2 separate regions of the Homo sapiens genome follow, and region 1 is linked to region 2. Evidence: fine-mapped expression QTL. A gene starts in region 2. The other region holds a variant in brackets. All regions are shown on one strand. Distances are between the middles of the regions. Region 1 overlaps CATSPER4 (cation channel sperm associated 4). Region 2 holds the start of CNKSR1 (connector enhancer of kinase suppressor of Ras 1).

Region 1 (10,333 bases), 26 kb before region 2:
CAGGTAAGGTGCTGCTCCAATGCACAGGCACATTAAATCCTTACAACCAACCTGTAGAAAAGGACTATTATTTCCATTTATCAAATGAAGAAACTGAGGATCAGACAGGTGAAGACATCTGTCCAAGGTCACACAGCCAGGAAGTGGTGCCACTGCATTTGAAACAAAGTCCATCAGACACCAGAACCCAATGCCTTCCCTACCACACTGCACTGCCTTACAAAAACACAGCTTTATTCTCATGGTTGAGCCAGCTGCTCTCTCTAGAAAGGCCCAAATCAATTATGTTGGGCTGGATTCCTTGGAAACCTTCTTCTTTCCCCTGGGTAATGGGCAGAAATAGGCCCATCACCTGATGTGCTGTTTTTGCATTCTTGGCAGTTTTCTTTCTTTCTTTCTTTCTTTCTTTCTTTTTTTTTTTTTTGAGACAGCCTCACTCTGTCACCGAGGCTGGAGTGCAGTGGCGTCATGTTGGCTCACTGCAACCTCTGCATCCTGGGTTCAAGTGATTCTCCTGCCTCGGCCTCCCAAGTAGCTGGGACAACAGGCGCATGCCACCGTGCCCTGCTAATTTTTGTGTTTTTAGTAGAGATGGGTTTTTGCCATGTTGGCCAGGCTGGTCTCGAACTCCTGGCCTCAAATGATCCACCCGCCTCAGCCTCTCGAAGTGCTTGGATTATAGCCGTGAGCCACCGTGTCCAGCCTCTTGGCAGTTTTCAAAAGGCTAACTCAGAAAATTGGAGGCTGGCCAGGCATGGTGGCTCACGCCTGTAATCCCAGGATTTTGGGAGGCTGAGATGGGAGGATCACCTGAGGTCAGGAGTTCGAGACCAGCCTGACCAACATGGTGAAACCTCGTCTTTACAAAACACACAAAATTAGCCAGGCGTGGTGGCACACACCTGTAATCCCAGCTACTTGGAAGGCTGAGATAGGAGAATCGCTTGAACCCGGGAGGCACAGGTTGCAATGAGCCAAGATCATGCCATTGCACTCCAGCCTGGGCAACAAGAGCAAAACTCAAAAAAAAAAAAAAAAAGGAAAAGAAAAGAAAAGAAAAAAAACTGGAAGTGACCCAGCCCAGGTGGCAGGCTCATTCTTTGTCCTTCCCATCGCCTAATTCTGAAGATGCACCAACCCTTCTTTTCTGGCACCATCCACACCCTCACTTTTTTTTTAGAGACAGAGTCTCAGTTGCCCAGGCTGTAGTGCCGTGGTGCAATCATGGCTCACTGCAGCCTCAAACTCCTGGGCTCAAGTGATCCTCTTGCCTCAGCCTCCTGAGTAGCTGGGACTACAAGTGCGCACCACCACACTCGACTAACATTTTTCTTTTTATTATTTATTTATTTATTTGAGATGGAGTCTCACTCTGTCACCAGGCTGGAGTGCAGTGGCGTGATCTCAGCTCACTGCAACCTCTGCCTTCTGGGTTCAAACAATTCTCCTGCCTCAGCCTCCCGAGTAGCTGGGACTACAGGCGCACCACATTGCACACACATTGCACCACACCCAGTTGATTTTTTTTTTCCTCACTCTGTCACCAGGCTGGAGTGCAGTGGCACAATCTCAGCTCACTGCAACCTCCACCTCCTGGGTTCAAGTGATTCTCCTGCCTTAGCCTCCCGAGTAGCTGGGACTATAGGCGCATGCCACCACGCCCAGCTGATTTTTTTCTTTTCTTTCTTTCTTTCTTTCTTTCTTTCTTTTTAAAGACAGATTCTCACTCTGTTGCCAGGCTGGAGTAAAGTGGCACAATCTCAGTTCACTAAAACCTCCACCTCCCGGGTTCAAGTGATTCTCTTGCCTCAGCCTCCTGAGTAGCTGGGACTACAGGCGCGTGCCACCACGCCCAGCTAATTTATTTTTTATTTTTTTAGTAGAGACAGGGTTTCTCCATGTTGGCCAGGATGGTCTTGATCTCTTGACCTCATGACCTGCCCCCCTCAGCCTCCCAAAGTGCTGGGATTACAGGCGTGAACCACTGCACCCAGCCTTCTTTTTATTTTTTGTAGAGATGAGGTCTCACTATATTACCCAGGATGGTCTCAAACTCTTGGCCTCAAGCAATCCTCCTGCCTTGGCCTCTAAAAGTGCTGGGATTGTAGGCATGAGCCACCTTGCCCAGTCCCACACCCACTTTCTTCTGGCCCTGTGCAGAGCTAAGGGATTGCAACAGGCCAGGGGAATTGGCAAGGATGCTTGGAAAGGGTAGGGGGACCTACGCTCTACACCTGGCTCTATTACTGGCTTGCTGGGTGACGCTGGGGAAGGTCTCACCTCTCTCTGGGCCTCCATGTTCCTCTTAGCCTAGTGAGGGACTTGGCTCAGTGTGGAGGAGCATTGTAAACTCTAGTCATCTGTGGGGTCCATTTGCAACAAAGATCTAGTTTGCACTGAACCTATATGTCTTGCTATAGGGGTCTCAAGTTTTTATTTGCAGGGAGGGATGTTTCCACTGAATCTGACTTTATGTTTTTTCCATATAGTTAATCAGTTATCCCTGCCCCCTTATGGAAAAGTCCATCTTTCCCCCAACCAACACCACATTATCTTACTGTTACTTTATAGTAAGCCTCAATATTTGGTCGGGTGAGTCACCCATCTTGTGCTTCAAAATTATCTTGACAGGCCGGGCGCAGTGGCTCTCACCTGTAATCCCAGCACTTTGGGAAGCCGAGGTGGGCAGATCACTTGAGGTCAGGAGTTCGAGACCAGCCTGACCAACATGGTGAAACCCCATCTCTACTAAATACAAAAAATTAGCTGGGCTTGGTGGCGCATGCCTGTACTCCCACCTACTCGGAAGGCTGAGGCAGAAGAATTGCTTGAATCTGGGAGGTGGAGGTTGCAGTGAGCCAAGATCGTGCCATTGCACTCCAGCCTGGGCAACAAGAGCAAAACTCCGTCTCAAAAAAAAAAAAAAATTATCTTGACTATTCTTGGCCTTTTGTTCTTCCTTACATATGTTAGGATCAGCTTAACAATTTCTACAAGCAACCTGTTGGAATTGTGATTGGAGGTGCCCTGCAATTATAGGTTCAGTGAGGATTGACATCTTTATGATATTGAGGTTTCCTGCCCACAGAAGCTCCCTTGAGAAGTGTGACCTGGGCTCTGAAGTCAGACCTGGGTTAGGATCTCAGTTCTGTGATGGAGGATAAGTCCCCCGTGGGGACATATCCTCTTCATACCCACTTCACTGATGGTCATGAGGATGAAATACTGCGTGTGAAGCACTCAGCACCATGCTTAGCACCTAGTAGGTACTCAATGAGTAGAACTGCTATTGGGAATGATTATCCCCTGCTGCTCCTGTCATCAGAATTGGTGTCTGCTTCCTGGACAGTTTGCCAAGGATGCTCCTGTCCCTGGTAAAAGTTATGGACTCATAGGGAGTCCCCAGAGGTCCACTGATTGTAGCTGATGGGAAACCCATCAGGTGAGACCATAGGGGTGATGAGACACACAATTTCCAGCCACCTCCCAATATCTTCCCCCGCACTGTCCTAGGAGCTCAGAATCCGGGGCCCCACTCCTAACTCAGGCTCAGTAAGGCATGGGGAGTGGTAGTTGCTCTTTGCTGGAGTAGGGAAGGGGAAGGGGAAGGGGAGAGTATGACTTCCTGGGCCCTCAGTTCCAGGCCAGTTTGGGAAGGAACTAGCCTGCTGAAACTCCAGGCTGTTAGGTTGGCCCGGATGGGAAAGACAAAGGCAGAGACAGATGAGATGACAAACAAGATGAAGGGAGTAGATAGACAAAATAGCATCCTGGAGGAGATAGATGGTCAAGGCCAGGAGCTCCATGGAGGTCACCCTGCTGTGCTCCTGACTGTAAGCTCACTGATGCTCCAAGCCTTTCAGACAGTTAGGGGTGAAGGATAGCCATACTCAAACTGTTAGCTCCTCCTGAAGACACCATCTGATCTGCCACCTTCTTCCCTCTCTGGCCAACAAGAAGAGGGGCTGAGAGGGCCCCCAGAGAAAGATGGGTGGAAAGAGTATGTAGATACTCACCAGGCAGGTTGAGGGCGCCATCTCCAGTAAGTAGCAACAGCAGCAGCAAAATCCGCTGGGTGCCCTTCTCTGTGCTGCTGATGGTCCTGGAGGGTGCTGGGAAGAAGTCCTGGCTCAAACAGGGGAATAGATTAACGGCTCCGAGACAGTAAGGCACTGCTGGCTCTGTTGCTGCCTCTCATCTGCCTACTGAGTGCACCATCCATCCCCAGGGGCCAGACTCCTTCCCAACAGACCCCAGGGGGCTTTTCAGAGTTGGAACCAATGCTGATGGGAGGACGATGGGGGGTGGGGTTTCCCATCAGCTGCAATCAGTGGACCTCTGGGGACTCCCATTCCAACTGGTGAATATCGCCACGGCCCCTAAGTGTCAGGCTTCGCTGAACAACAGGGCAGATGTCCAGGCCTTCCAGGCTATCCCCTGACACCTGCATCCCAGGGACATAGCTGATCCCATGGGTCTTCCACTTCCTGGGATAAGAGGGGATTATTTGATTTTAGAGATGGAGATCAATCTCACCCTCTCTCCATCGCACAGATGGGGAAAACAAGGCCAAGTGACTCACTGAAGGACCAGAACCGAGGTTTCCTGTCCTCCAAGGCAGCTCTTTCTATTGCCCATAACTGCCACAATTTTCTGACTCTCCCCAGATTGCATAGCTCAGGAACCTGCTGAGGCTCTCAGTGGCCTTGAGTATGAAGATCCCAAATAGGCTTCACAGGTCCTAAGTTCCCCACCAGACTTCATTCATCTGACCCGCAAAATCTTCCTCTCCTCTAGGAAGCTGCCAGGACCCACATTTTAAGTAGTCAGTCTCCATTGCCCTAGGATGGAGGTGCCTGTACTTGTGTGACTTGGTCATTGGTGATCCCATCAGACAAGGGCTCCCCAGAGTGAGGACCAGTCTCCATCTTCAGACAGGGAGAGAGCAGGTAGGGCCATCTCCTTCATCAGACAGGGGCTCCCTCCCATGAGGACCAGACTTTCCTCCACAAAGCTTAGGACCCTGAGGGCAAGGGTTATATCTCTACCATTAAGTCAGAAATTTTTAGGGGTGCAATTCTCCCTCCCATTAGACTGGATGCTCTTCAGGGCAGCCTGTGACTCTCCCACCAGACAAACGGGATTTTGAGGGGCAAGATCTGTCTTTCCTATTAGACCCAGGCAAGTGCCCCAAGGAGTTGGAGATCCACCAGTCAGAGACATTGATTCCAACACAAAACTTTATTGTCAACACACAGATGTCTGGCCCCACTGGCCTTGCCTTTCTCTTCTTGGTTCTGGGGCCCACTGAGGCCCCCCACCAGCTCTGGGCAAGAGCAGGGGGCCAGGGATCCCCATCCTTAGGTCAAATCCTGGCTGCGTTGGCCAGCACCCCCTTCTGTGCTCATCCTTGCTGCTAGGGTTCCCACTCTCATCATCCAGCATCCTCCTCTCTCCTTGCTCCACCGGACCTGGGGCTCACAGGCACCAGACCTGCAGGTGCTGCCACCTTCACAGCCCCTGGCCTCTGCCCAGGTATAAGGGAGAGGATGGGCTCTGGCCAGGCTCTGCCAAGCCACACTAAGGACACAGGAAGACGCAGCGGCTGGGTGTGTGTGTGCAGGCCCCTTGGCTCCCATCCTGGCCTCTCAGTGGCTGCTCTTGTGTTTTTTAAGGAGTATTTGTGAGCTAGAGTCATGAACCTGCAAACCAAGAGGTCTTCTTGTTAATCCCCCACTCCCCCCGATATGGCAGCCTCCGTTACTCACCTCCTCCAGTCTCACCAGCTTCCCCAGCCAGGCCTCCCAGAGAAGTGCTTCATAGGTCTAACTTGAGCCTACCTAGTACCCCCTCTGAGTTTGGGAGCCCAGGGTATATCCCAGGCTGATGGTGTGGAGGGGCAGAAAAAGAAACTAAGTAACGTGGGTGTGTGCCTTTTTCTCTCCAGGAGTTCAGGAGACAGCTGGTTTTGTGCACCTTAGATAGGATCCTGGGTCCTGTGCCCACACTATACTTACAGCCTAAGTGTCTGCCACTAGGCAGGCACTGAGCTGGCTCATGCCACACACACTAAGAAAGGGTAGGTTTGAAGGCACTAGAGATGAAACTGGCAGGAAGGGTGGAGCCTTTCCGAGAAGGAAAGTGCAGAACCTAACCAGATAGGCAGTGACAGCTGAGGCAGATGGAAGTTTAAGAGGCAGACAGCCAGGTGCAGTGGCTCACGCCTGTAATCCCAGCACTTTGGGAGGCCAAGGAGGGTGGATCACGAGGTCAGGAGTTCAAGACCAGCCTGGCCAAGATGGTGAAACCCCCATCTCTACTAAAACTACAAAAATTAGCCAGGTGCAGTGACAAGCACCTGTAATCCCAGCTACTTGGGAGGCTGAAGCAGGAGAATCGCTTGAACCCAGGCCGCAGAGGTGGCAGCGAGCCGAGATCGCGCCACTGCACTCCAGCCTGGGCGATGGAGTAAGACTCCGTCTCAAAAAAAAAAAAAAAAAGGAAAGAAAGAAAGAAAAAGAAAAAAGAAAAAAAAGGAGGGGTGGTGGTGGTGAGGGGGACCAGATCTTGGAATAGACAGAAACTTTGACAAATGGTCCAGAGGCCCGGCTGGGCTGGGCTGAGCAGAGTGTCAGGGCGAGTACCCATTGGGTAGGAGAAGGAAGGCACACCTTTTCCATGCTAACGAGCGCACTGAGCAAGTCTTGCTGTTGAGACATCTGGCGGATGTCCTTGGATGACGTAGTCTCCAACGACCCGCTCGTCGACGAGCGCCTGTTCAACACCTCTGACTCCTG[C/T]TCCTGGTTGAAGCGGATTGCGCGCACCTCCTCCACAATCCTGGGGGTGGAGCAGTGAGTGCCTTTCAGAAGGCCTCAGGGGAGGGAAGCAGCCCTCCCACCTCTTCCCTGGCGTCACCCCCGCTTCGCTCTCCCACGCAGCCCTGACAGAGACCCAGGCCGAGCTGTGCCCTTGTGTGAGATGGAAGGAACCTGGAGTCTGGATTCCAGTTCCTCCACCAATAGGGTGGGGGACCTCTGTGGGGCCCAGGCTCTGCCTTATAAATGGTGAGGGCGTGAGGCCAGAAGACTCTGACGCTCCGCCCAGCCTTGACTCACATGACTTGGGGGCAGCCCCAGTACCCTCCCCTACATGTTGAGTTCATCTCGGATCTCCTTGTACTGCCTCAGGTTCTCCTGTATTGCCTCAAGCACCAAGCAAAAGTTGTCACACGTGTTTTCTGAGAGGTTCGACAGGGGGCCTCCCGCAAGGGGTTCCTGGAGGAGACCAGATTTCTCCGAGCGGGCGACCACACAATGCACCAGTGGCAGCTGGTCATTCTCCTCCTCTTCCTCTGCGCCTGTCTGGGAAGCGGGGGATAGAGAGGGGTCGGGACAGCTCAGGCAGGCACGCCCCCGGCACCCTTTTCCTGCTTGGCTTCAGGATGAGTCTCTTAGGACCCCAGGGTTCTAAGGCCCTCATTTCAGCTCTCACCAATCTTAGCCTCACTGCCTTGCTGGGGGAACCCAACTTTAAATGCACATGACCTCCCCCCACCTCTTTAAAAATTCTCACCCCATTTCAAAATTTAGCCCTGCCCCAGATTTCAACCCTGATAAACCCTACCCAGCAAATTTATAAAGCCCTGCCTACCCTCAAGCCCAGGCCTCCAGCACTCCACTCTTTTAGAAGTACTCCACCCCTTTCCCCAACCTTATGGAAGTACTGCCCTGAATGAATAATACCGTAGCTAACATTTATTGAGTGCTTACTATGCGCCAAGCACTGTTCATTTACCCATTAACCCTCATAAAATAACCCTATGAGTTAAGTACTATTATTATTCCCATTTTACAAAAGAAAAAAATTGAGGCTTAGAGTGGGTAAATGCCCCAAGGTCACCCAGCTGCTCAGTTTTGAGTTGCCATAGAAATCTAACATCTAGAAAATCCACACCCCTCAGAAGCCCCAGTTGGTGGGTGGGCACTCAAGATGGGGGGCTGCTGCCTCCAGGCCTCCAACTTGGCTTTCTCCAGGCCCTTGATTATGCAAGCACACACATACATGCACATATGTTCAAGTCCGCTCTCATACACACTCCTTTTCCTCCCTTCTGCCCTCCCCATCCCACGCACCTCACTAAAGGTTATTCGTTGCTGTTGTCCCTGCTCTCCTGCCTTCATCATTTGCTCCAGGTTGGTGGTCACCACGATGACGAACAGGTTGATGCCAATGAAGGCACCGATGGTGATGAAGATGGTAAAGTAGATGGCACCCCCAATCTCCATTGCATATTCCCTCTTCTCTGTCCTGCAGATGGCAGGCAGGGGCCCCATCATTTCCCTGGCCCTTCAAGCCTGAGTTTCCTTGTCATTGAAATGGGAAAATCATCCCAAGGCCTACTAGAACTTCTGCCTGTGTCACTGCTGTTGTGCAGATCCCATTCCCTACTCCTGTCTCAATAGCTGCTCTCTACTAAGCACCTACTGTGCTGCCAGACAGTGAGCTGATTCTCTAACCAACCCTGCAAGGTGGGGACGTGCACATCAACACTATTAAGTTTAATCTATTAGCTACACTCCTTTTTTTTTTTTTGAGATGGAGTCTCGCTGTGTTGCCCAGACTGGAGTGAAGTGGCGTGATCTCGGCTCACTGCAAGCTCCACCTCCTGGGTTCATGTCGTTCTCCCGCCTCAGCCTCCCAAGTAGCTGAGACTACAGGTGCTTGCCACCACGCCTGGCTAATTTTTTTTTTTTTTTTTTGAGACAGAGTCTCACTCTGTCACCTAAGCTGGAGTGCAGTGGCGTGATATGGGTTCACCGCAACCTCCGCCTCCCAGGTTCAAGCGATTCTCCTGCCTTAGCCTCCTGAGTAGCTGGGATTACAGGCGCCCCACCGTCCGGCTAATTTTTGTATATTTAGTAGAGACGGGGTTTCACCTTTTTGGCCAGGCTGGTCTTGAACTCCTGACCTTGTGATCCACCTGCCTCAGCCTCCCAAAGTGCTGGGATTACAGGTGTGAGCCACTGCACTGGGCTTTGTTTTTGTATTTTTAGTAGAGATGGGGTTTCACTGTGTTAGCCAGGATAGCCTTGATCTGACCTCGTGAGCTGCCCACCTCGGCCTCCCAAGGTGCTGGGATTACAGGCGTGAGCCACCGCGCCCGGCCCCGGCCAGCCTGATTTTTATCCACTACCTATGCCATAATGGAGAATGACTGTAGAAGCCCTTTATCTACTGGGCTTCTATACTCACATGTAGAAGATAAAAAGAAATCAGTTAAGGGGTCCCACTTTCTGGAATAAACTGGAAAGAAATAGGGCTTAGACTTAATAGAAAAGAGGTAAAGAACAGAACACAAAAATGAATGTGGGCAGTGGGTTTAAGAATGAATGAAATGAGACCTGAAGTTCCCAGGAGTTCAGGCAGTTTGGTGGGCTCCAAGGTGGGCTGGGAGGTTGCTCTGTAACCTGAGGCATAACTGCAGACCTGCTGCCTTATCCAAGGCCAACTACCCAGCTGGTTAGCATGATGGGAGAGGTCCCCATTACAGGGTGGGAATGGGACTCTGAATATATGGAGATTCAAGGGTGACAAGGCTTCAGGTATCACAAGTCCAGGTATTTCCTTTTCCTCTGTTTAAAGACCTGGGAACCCCCACTTCTACTGGGCCATCCTCATCCCAATCCCTGGAGCTCCCACTCTCAGCCTGGAGCTCCACCGGCTACCCTGCCCCATAGGTGGGATGAGGCTGGAAGTCCCACTGGCACTCACTGGAAGTCACTGTAGATGTCCACCCAGCCGTCCTGGGTGATGCAGATGAAGAGGGTGTACAGCGCAACCTGTATGTTCTGGAAATGCTTGGGCACGAATGCACCAAAGAGTGTTACTCCAAACACGGAAAAAACCTGTCAGAGAGAAAAGAGCCCCACCCCGACTTCACCAAAGGGCCTGGAAATAGGACACACAAATGTCATGTAAATGAACGCTGCTGAGGAAATCACAGGGATTCAGGCCCACAGGCCTCTCTGCTTTTCCAGACACCCCTCTATTTGCAATGACCCAAGGGCCCTGTTCAGGGAAGGGAAACAGCTGGGGGCGGGGGCAGGCACTGACCAGCATGAAGAAGAGGATGAGGACCATGATATTGGCCATGTCAGGCACCGACTGCAGGATGACGCGGATGATCCGGGCGAGGGGCTCCACCGCCATGCACACATGCACCAGACGAAGCGCCCTGTGGCAGAGCCTGTCAGGGGTGCCCCTAGGCCCTTCCCAGCCCCTTCCCTCCTCATTACCCCCACCAGCTGCCCAGAGAGGCAAAGCTGATCTCCAG
Region 2 (10,487 bases):
CCACGTGGCTGCACTGGGGGAGGGGAGCGGGCTATGTAGCCTGAGCCCGATCGCCCCTACCCCCACTCTCTTCCCACCCCACAGACTCACGATCCTCAGGACTGTGCCCTCCTTCTCAGCCGCTGGACCATCCTGGAAGTAGAATGAGAGAGCAGGGGCCTCCCCTGAGCAAGGGCCATAAGGGGACTGCCTTCTCCTGGGGGCAGGGTGGGATTCCGTACAGTCCCTCCCTGCCTTCCCTACACTGGCCCCCTGCCCAGAACCACAGGGCCTCAGCGTTTTAACCAGAGGGCTCGTTTCCCTGATACCAGGCCCCCAGAAGTCACCACACGTGCCCTCCCCTCCTTCCCTGTCCTGAGTGTCAAAATTCCCCTGCCAGCTAGGGGACCCCAGGCCCCATTGTCCCATACCCAGTGGCAGGGCCTCCTCTCCTCCTTTCTCGCCCGTCTCAATCCTCATACTCGATCCTGGGCTGATTCACAGGTTATAAAAAGCTCTAGCCCAGCTTGGTCTCTAGGGCATGGGCCAAGCCTGGCCCTTGGTTCTCCTACCTCATGCAAGACCTGGCTCAGCTCCTCCAACAAGTCTCGGATCTCCTGGCATGCTGAGAAATCATTTAAGTGGGAGAAGAGGTACCTGGCAGGGGAAGAATAGCACAGTGGTTAAGGGACTATGCTTAACCACTCAGAGCCAATTACTCACCAATTACTCACCTCAGAGACTTGGGGATAATACCTGCTCTGATGGGTTTTGGTTTAGAGTAAAGGAGATGATTGAGACATCTAAAGAGATTAGCACAGGACTTATTTGTCATGTGCCTACCACATGCCAAGCCCTGTTCTAGGCACTGGGGAAACAGACAGTAAAGACATCATACATCAATATCAATTTAACTTTGGCTGTAATGAGTATCATGAAACATTGGATAATGAGTTTATAATAAGTTATTATTTATTATTTATTAATAGTATAGCTTGGAGAGTGTACAACAGGGAAGGCTTCCCCGAGATGACATTTGAGGTGGGGTCTGTAGGACAAGCAGCAGCCAGTGCACAGGGTTGGGGAGGCTCTCCATTCAGTGGTTGTTGATGAGATCGATTATTACAAGCTGGAGGGTGGGGTGGGAACTCTGGCATCCCAGTGCCCCTGCACAGGTGGATTAATCCCTCTGCCCTGCTCCACCATATCTTTTTTTTTTTTTTTTTTTTTTTTGAGAGGGAGTCTCACTCTGTCGCCCAGGCTGGAGTACAGTGGCATGATCTCGGCTCACTGGAACTTCCACCTCCCAGGTTTGAGTGATTCTCCTGCCTCAGCCTCCCCAGTAGCTGGGATTACAGGTGCGCACCACCACACCTGGCTAATTTTGTATATTTTTGGTAAAGATGGGGTTTCACCATGTTGGCCAGGCTGGTCTCCAACTCCTGACCTCAAGTGATCTGCCCGCTTCGGCCTCCCAAAGTGCTGGGATTACAGACCTAAGCCACCACGCCTGGCTCACCATATCTGAACAAGAGCCAAGATCTGTTTTTCTCTCCCACGCCCTGAAGGAGGCCAAGGATGACAATAGTCCCTCACTCGTCACCCCAACCCGGGTACCTGCTGAGCCAGAAGAGGAGGGCGTCAGCTTCATGCAACAGCTCCACAGCTGCACAGAGGACATCAATAGGGGTCTTGGCACAGTCCCCCAGGCAGCCTTGGACTATGCTCTGGAAGTCATGGGTTGCCCCCAGAAGTCCCTCTGTCAGGCTTTGCAGGTTCTCTGTCTGTAGCCTGGAGCTCTGTGCCAGAAAGAGGGCAAGTCACCTCCCTGGCAGCAGCCAGCCCCCCATCACACCCCCCAGGTTGGTGGAAGCTGCAGCCAGTGTGACCAGCATTCACTCACCAGGGCCTGGAGCTGTTCCACCCCGCCCAGGATGAGCTCCTGGTGTCCCAGAGACCGCACAGCCAGAGCCTCGAGGCTTTGGGGGCAGAGCTGGAGCAGGTTCTTGCCAGGCAGCTGCCAGTCCTCAAAGGGATAGTCCTGCAGGGAGTCGTCAAGACCTGGAGGGAGAGTAAGGCTCAGCTCGGGGAAGCAGAGGTGTCAGGACCTTTTGGGATGGTTCTTCATGCCTGCAAAGCTCTTTTCCCTCTAGTCTAACCCTAATGACAACTCTGACACCCAGGCTGTTCTGCCCATTTCACAGATGAGGCCACTGAGTTGAGAAGCAGGAAAGTATAGGACATGGGTTCTTAAAAGTGGCCCCCAGACCAGCAGCAGCAGACTCACCGGAGAACTTGTTAGAAATGCAAATTATCAGGCCTCACCCCACACCTGCTGAATCAGAAACTCTGAGGTTGGGGCCCAGCAGTCTTTTTTTTGTTTTTGTTTTGTTTTTTCTTTTTGAGACAGGGGCTTGAGACACAGTCACGGCTCACTGCAGCCTTGACCTCCTAGGCTCAATCCATCCTCCCACCTCAGCCTCCCAAGTAGCTGGGACTACAGGCACACACCACCACACCCAGCTAATTTTTGTATTTTTTGCAGAGGTGGGATTTCACCATGTTGCCCAGGCTAGTCTCGAACTCCTGGGCTCAAGCAATTTGACTGCCTCAGTCTCTGAAAGTGCTAGAATTACAGGTGTGAGCCACGACGCCCAGCCAGCAGTTTGTATTTTAATGCAGGTGACTGTGATGCTCCCTTAAGTTTGAGAACTAATGATACAGGGGATAAGAACAAGAGGCTATGGAGTCACTGAGACACTGTGAACACTTGAGCAAGTAATAGCACTGCTCTGTGCCCAGTTTTCTCACCTGTAATGTGAGAATAATAAAAGTACCTACCTTCTAATCATGTGTGTATTGAATGACACAACATATGTCAAGGCCTTGGCCACTGTCTGGTTCGTGGGAGACAGCCAATAATAGCCATCATATTATTATTGCCAGACTTTACCATGACCTACAGGCCCTGTATGATTAGGCTACTACCTCCCTTTCCAGCATCATATCCTGAAGAGCCCCCTAAACTCAACATTTCAGATGCACAGAGCTAATTCCTTGCAGCTCCTGGAACACCCTTTTACCTCAGCGTCCTTGCAAGTGCTATTCCTCCTGCTGGCGTTGCTCTTCTATCTCCTTCACTTCCTTTTTCATCTAACTTCCTCCAGGAAGCCTTCCATAACTTCCCAGGCTGAGTGGGATGGAGGGCTCTCCTCTTGTTCCCACTGCCCCTGAGCCTCCACAAACCCCTGCACTTGACCATCGGTCTTTCCCATTTTATCACAGGCTCTTCAAAGATCAGGCCTTAGATAACCATTTGTCTCTAACCCCCGGCCTGTGCCTGGACAAGGTAGGCACTGAAAAATAAGAAAAGTGTCTATTGAGGGCTTACTATGTGCTATGCAAATCTATAAGAGCTTTACACATATTAACACATTTGATTCTCACTGCATTTCTAGGAGGTAAAGACTATCATTATCCTGCTTACAGATGGGAAAACTGACACAGAGGTTAAGTAGCTTGCTCACTCTTCGAAGGAATTCTTCCCCTTCTAAGCCAGGCTCCTTCACTGGGGGAGGTGTGTGTGTGTGTTCCCTGTGTCACATTGAGAGCACTGGACTGGGAGTTCATGAACCTATCACTCCCTGGCTATGGGCCCCTGAGCCACCTCCTTCCTGCACGGTGACTGTATTGGGCTGGTGCCCTCCCAATAGACCCAGGCATTGAGCTACAAATGAACTATGTCATGATTGTCTCACTTTGTCGACTTCATAAGGTCAGAGTTGCCTTTCCCATTTGATGGACAGAAAAACTAAGACCTATGGTCACAGAGCTGGCAAGCGGTGGGGGTGGGCCTGGAATCCAGCCTGGGAGTCTGAACCCAGCCCTGAATTCCTGCCCTTACCCGGGCTGGTCCTCCTGAGCCTGTCTCTAGTGCGCTCCAGCTCCCCACTCTGGGAGGGGTGTCCTGACTGCCTGCTCCTGGTCGCACTGTGTGTCAGGAGGCCCTTCCTTCTCTGAGTCTGCCTGTGGGGTGTGTTGCTTCCCATCTGTGTGGGCTCGCTGAGCCTGGACAGCACCTTGCCCCTTGGATAGGAGCCCCAGGGTGGGGCTGTGTCAACCTCTTCAGTCTGGCCTAGGGCTTCTGCTTCTGTCACTAGGAGCTCAGGGTGTGGAGCGGGGAAAATGACACCAGAGACTGAGCAAATCATTTCCTGGCTCTGTGTGTCAGTTTCTGACTCTAAGAAACGGATTTAACAACAGCCCACTGGCCCTGGGGCCAGGGAAGATGAAGGAGATACAGTGGGTGTGGGCCTGTCAGGCCTCCCTCCTGTTTTCATGACACCGCCTCCCCATTATCACCCTAGAGGCCTCTTGGGCTACTGCCATGATGAGGGGCCCCCTTCTGGGTCCTTGGGCCCCCCAGGGTCATCTCATCTGTCTCTCTGCCCAGCACGGTTCCTGGAACATGTTAGGTGCTCTGTAAATATTTGTTGACTGACTGACCGACTGATAGAGCCCGCAGTTTATTATTTTTTTTTTTCTTTTGAGCTGAATCTCGCTCTGTCGTCCAGACTGGAGTGCAGCGGTGCAATCTCGGCTCACTGTAACCTCTGCCTCCTGGGTTCAAGCGATTCTCCTGCCTCAGCCTCCCAAGTAGCTGGGATTACAGGCACCTGCCACCACCCCCAGATAATTTTTGTATTTTTAGTAGAGACGGGGTTTCACCATGCTGGTCTTGAACTCCCGACCTCAGGTGACCCACCCACCTTGGCTTCCCAAAGTGCTGGGATTACAGGTGTGAACCAGCGCACCCAGTCCGCAGATTTTTTTTCCTTTTCCTCTCCTCCCGCTTCCCGGTGGGACACCACACCTAGTCCCCTTCAAGCCCAACTCTACCCCAGCCCCACCCACCTCTCAGCCAAGTTGCCACCTTTCCGGGGGTCCAGGTCTCTACCGGTTCCATGGCCCAGCTCTGCCAGCTCGAATCAGCTCCTGTTTTGCCCTGCTGTCGCCGGAATTTCCGCTCCCAGAGCCCAGGCCTAAGGAGGGGCCGGGCTGGGTCCTGGGCGGAGCCTACTGCATACCTGGGCTCACACAGACGGCAAGATGAGGCACTGCGACAGCCATTGGCCCACGCCCGTCCGCCTCCTGCCCGGCCCTTCAGACATCCTAGGGCTCTGGCATCTCGCGCCTGCTAGGGGGCAGTGCCACTGGCCTCATATCGCGGGGTGGGACCCTGACCCTTGGGCTCCTCAAGAAAAAGCCACAAGAGGAGCGCTGAAATCAGTAGCAAAGCACAGAGGCTAGGGGGCCAGGTCCCTGGGTGCCTAGGCCAGCTCTTGTTAGCTGTGTGACCTGGGGCTGACCCTAACTTCTGCGCCTCAGTTTCTGGGTCTGTAAAAGAGATATAATAGACCGTACTTCAAAGGGCAGCTGTGCACAGTATCTGAATGGCTTGAAAACATTTAGAACTGGGGTGTTTAGCCTCCCTTGGATTTTGCAGTATGGACTCTGGCATCTGGTGAGGCCTGTGAATGCTTTCTCAGAATAGCTGCTTATAAAGGCATAAAACAGGCCGGGCGCGGTGGCTCACGCCTGTAATCCCAGCACTTTGGGAGGCCGAGGTGGGCGGATCACTTGAGATCAGGAGTTCAAGACCAGCCTGGCCAATATGGTGAAACACCATCTCTACTAAAAATACAAAAAATTAGCTGGGCGTAGTGGGTGCTTGTAATCCCAGCTACTCAGGAGGCTGAGGCAGGAGAATCCCTTGAACCCAGGAGGGGGAGGTTCCAGTGAGCCAAGATCGTGCCACTGCACTCCAGCCTGGGCAACAGAGCAAAACTCTGTATTATAAATAAATAAATAAATGCACAAAACAAAATGCTTAGGATTACAATGAGAACAATTATCAAAACTATATTTAAAAACAAATTTGGCCGGGCATGGTGGTTCACGCCTGTAATTCCAGCACTTTGGAAGGCCAAGGCGGGTGGATCATGAGGTTAAGAGATGGAAACCAGCCTGCCCAACATGGTGAAACCCCGTCTCTACTAAAAATACAAAAATTAGCTGGGTGTGGTGGTGCACGCCTGTAGTCACAGCTACTCAGGAGGCTGAGGCAGGAGAATCGCTTGAACCTGGGAGGCGGAGGTTGCAGTGAGCTGAGATCACGCCTCTGCACTCCAGCCTGGCAACAAAGCAAGACTCCGTCTCAAAAAAAAAACCCACAAAAAACAAAAAAAAAATTTGGAGCTGGGGAGTGCTGGCACACGACTGTAGTCCCAGCTACTCGAGAGGTTGAGAGGTTGAGCGGGGGAGTATCACTCAAGCCCAGGAGTCAAAGCCACCCTGGGCAACATAGCAGGAGCCCATCTCAAAAAAATAAAACCAGAAATTTATATTATGTGTTTACTAACATTAATAAGACTGGCCGAAAGTTAAATTTTTCTTTTTTAATGACCTCAGTGTGTTGTCGACCAGCTTGAATAAGGACATTAAACTGTGGGGTGGTCTTTGACGCCCCTCCTCTTACATATTGATCAGCAAACAACTAAAAACAGGGAATGCTGGGCCGGGCATGGTGGCTCACGCCTATAATCGAGACGGGCGGATTATGAGGTCAGGAGATCGAGACCATCCTGGCTAACATGGTGAAACCCCGTCTCTACTAAAAATACAAAAAATTAGCCAGGCATGGTGGCGGGCGCCTGTAGTCCCAGCTACTCAGGAGGCTGAGGCAGGAGAATGGCGTGAACCCAGGAGGCAGAGCTTGCAGTGAGCCGAGTTCGCGCCACTGCACTCTAGCCTGGGCGACAGAGCAAGACTTCGTCTCAAAAAAAAAAAAAAAAAGACAGGGAATGCAGAAGAGTGGAGAAGCCCTACTCAGAACAGGCAGATTCGCCCTTTGGTCACTGAACCACTGCTAAGCCTGGAGGTAACCAATTAATGGCGGCTACATCACAGGAGCATCTGAAACAGAAGTTGCTCACGAACAATTTAGTGGTGGTTTAACAACCACTGTGATTTTGAAATCACTTGAGCATAAATATTTTGAGATACTTGCAATAACTACAATTTGATATGAAAATATGTGATTTCTATTGGTGACTAAGCCAAAGATACTGCTACTGCTTCAATCCATATAGAAGGAAATCATAAATTTTGGTTAGAGTTTAGCAAAAATAAAAATATAATTTTTTCCCATCCAAGTTTATGGATCCCCTGAATTCTGAACCTCAGAGCAAGAGCTTTAATCTTAGAAAAATATCTGACACATAGTAAATGTTCATTTTCATCATCATCATCAGGTCAGGGGACTCCCAGGACTTTAGAATCAGATAAAATCAGCCGGGCGTGGTGGCTCAGGCCTGTAATCCCAGCACTTCAGGAGACCTATGCGGGCGGATCACCTGAGGTCAGGAGTTCGAGACCAGCCTGACCAACATGGAGCAACCCCATCTCTACTAAAAATACAAAATTAGCCGGGTGTGGTGGCACATGCCTGTAATCCCAGGTACTCGGGAGGCTGAGGCAGGAGAATTGCTTGAACTCATGAGGTAGAGGTAGCGGTGAGCTGAGATCGCGTCATTGCACTCCAGCCTGGGCAACAAAAGTGAAACTCCACCTCAAAAAAAAAAAGGCCGGGCGCGGTGGCTCATGCCTGTAATCCCAGCACTTTGGGAGGCCAAGGCGGGTGGATCATCTGAGGTCAGGAGTTCGAGATCAGCCTGGCCAACATAGAGAAGCCCTGTCTGTACTAAAAATCCAAAAAATTAGCCGGTCGTGGTGGCGGGCGCCTATAATCCCAGCAACTCGGAAGGCTGAGACAGGAGAATTGCTTGAACCCGGAAGCAGAGGTTGCAGTGAGCCGAGATTGCGCCACTGCACTCCAACCTGGGCAACAAGAGCAAAACTCTGTCTCAAAAAAAAAAAAAATCAGATAAAATCAGTTCCATACTCAACTGCTATGTGACTCAGCCCAACTTCTACAGCTCTCTGAATCTGTTTCTTTGTCTCCAGAAGGGGATTCCTAGGCCTTAGCACTGTGATGACATTAAGTACTTTGAAATCTGTATCATGGGGTAGATATGAGTTATTATTGCTTTAATTCTGTGGGGAGGAGCTACCTGTTGTCACCTACTTCAGAATTTCTGCAGCACCCCCAGTCATCAAAGCCTGTCACGACCTTACCTGTAACCCAGAGACCCAAAGTCTGAATTTCGCCCATGGTTGGCCCATGTAGTGTACGTGTGTTGTCATCATTTAATAACGTCACATCCAAATTGAGATTTCCAGCTTCTCTGAACTTGGCCAGCTCTGGTGATGCCATCCCACCTTCACACTTGGTATTAACAGCCTCTTTCATTTTGTGAGCCAGTTGGCTTCAAATTTGCAAAATGCCCGTCTCCAGCTTTGTCTTTTGCCTCAGGTCTGTGTCCCTTGAACACTCCGTGCTGCATCCTCGTTTAACATTTTTGCCTCTTCATGCAGCAGCCTCCCTGTGGCACTCTGGGGAAGTCCAGTAAATTCTAATAGAGCCTTTATCAGTGTTCGGTAGACAGATCTTGATTTCATCAAATATCTTTCCTGAGCTGCCACCAGAGGTGAGAACCAGCCCCCTCTCTCCCTGAACCACGGCGCCTTTACTCTACGCTCCCAGCATCTGCCAGGGTTAGGCAGTTAGGAACACAGTAAGTGGCAGCTTCTATTTATTTTTATCTATTTTTTTGAGACAGAGCTTTGCTCTTGTTGCCCAGGCTGGAGTGCAATGGCATGATCTTGGCTCACTGCAACCTCCGCCTCCCAGGTTCAAGCTATTCTCCTGCCTCTGCCTCCCAAGTAGCTGGGATTACAGGCGTGTGCCACCATGCTCGGCTAATTTTGTATTTTTAGTAGAGATGGGGTTTCACCATGTTGACCAGGCTGGTCTCAAACTCCTGACCTCAAGTGATCTCCTTGCCTCGGCCTCTCAAAGTGCTGGGATTACAGGCGTAAACCACCACGCCCGGCTGACAACTTCTATTTTAAAGGGTTTCATTTTGTTTTTTGAGAGAGTCTTGCTCCGCTGCCCAGGTTGGAGTGCAGTGGCGCAGTCTTGGCTCACTGCAACCTCTCCCTCCCAGGTTCAAGTGATTCTCGTGCCTCAATCTCCCAAGTAGCTGGGATTACAGGTGTGCGCCACCACACCCAGCTAATTTTTTTATTTTTAGTAGAGACAGGGTTTTGCCATGTTGGCCAGGCTGGTCTCGGACTCCTGACCTCAAGTGATTCACCTACCTTGGCCTCCCAAAGTGCTGGGATTACAGGTGTGAGCCACCATGCCCAGCCTATTTTAAAAAGCTTTATGAATATAAAGTTCTACATATTTGCTGTATACATTTCAAAGGTAATAGGTTAAGTGAAAGAAGGATGTGCCCTTTCCCCAGTGTGTCTCTATCATGTTCCCCAGTGGGGGCCACTACTAAATTTGGGATATTCTTCTATTTTCTATATCTGCAGATAGTCTACATACTATTCTGCAAATTGTACTTTTTCTTTTTTATTTTTATTGGAGACAGGGTCTGGCTCTGTCACCCATGCTGGAGTGCAATGGTGCAACCTCAGCTCATTGCAGCCTCCACCTCCTGGGCTCAAGTGATCCTCCCACCTCAGCCTCCTGAGTAGCTGGGACTACAGGCATGCACCACCATGCCTGGCTAAATTTTTTTTTTTTTTTTTGGTAGAGATGAGGTTTCACCACGTTGCCCAGGCTGGTCTTGAACTCCTGGGCTCAAGCCATCTGCCTGCCTCAGCCTCCCAAAGTGCTGCCCAGCCATACTTTTTCATTTAAGAGATAATCGATAGCAAATGAAATAATACAAGTTAAGTGCTTAGAACAATGACTACTATTTTTAACGTATCACGGGCAGCTTCCTTAATTGGTATATGCAGATATGCTTTTATTATTGTTTCAAGCTGAGGGCAGGGAAGTCCCTGAAGAAACTTTGTCTTGAAAAAATGGGTTAAATTGGCCGGGCGCAGTGGCTCACACCTGTAATCCCAACACTTTGGGACGCCAAGGCGGGGGGATCATGAGGTCAGGAGTTCAAGACCAGCCTGACCAATATGGTGAAACCCCGTCTCTACTACAAATACAAAAATTAGCTGGGCGCGGTGGCAGGTGCCTGTAATTTCAGCTACTCAGGAGGCTGAGGCTGGAGAATCGCTTGAACCTGGGTGGCAGTGAGACGAGATCATGCCACTGCACTCAAGCCTGGGTGACAGAGTGAGACTTCTGTCTTAAAAAAAAAAAAAAAAAGGGTTATATGTGCCCTCCCTTGAGGTAGGGGCGGTTGATTTCACAGAAATCAAATGGAAAAGGCATACTGTTGTGGGAGCTAATAACACATCCTTCCTTCGATAATGCTGATTGGTGGCATCCAATCATCTAAGGTAGCGATGGGGCCTGGACCAGGGCTGAGGGAGGCCCGCCCAGTACCTGGTCCAGGCCTGGGACTCCTGAG

The links.
Region 1: its variant is fine-mapped to the expression of CNKSR1 in whole blood (TOPMed, PIP 0.94).

Annotation. Positions count from the first base shown.
Region 1 is chr1:26,197,858-26,208,190 of GRCh38, reverse strand. CATSPER4 (cation channel sperm associated 4) reads right to left here. Exons shown (of 10, transcript NM_198137.2): 5 at 10,114-10,234; 6 at 9,772-9,905; 7 at 8,133-8,307; 8 at 7,150-7,361; 9 at 6,672-6,837; 10 at 5,227-5,702. The coding sequence ends at 5,649. Among named protein-coding and RNA genes, the nearest start is that of CATSPER4, 12 kb to the right of the region's middle. RefSeq lists enhancers at 5,764-6,736, 9,720-10,219. The variant C/T (reference allele first, on the strand shown) is at 6,798.
Region 2 is chr1:26,172,006-26,182,492 of GRCh38, reverse strand. It overlaps CNKSR1 (connector enhancer of kinase suppressor of Ras 1), which reads right to left and starts at 5,002. Exons shown (of 21, transcript NM_006314.3): 1 at 4,894-5,002; 2 at 1,883-2,040; 3 at 1,597-1,778; 4 at 552-636; 5 at 91-132; 6 at 1-13. The coding sequence starts at 4,945. RefSeq lists an enhancer at 1-423.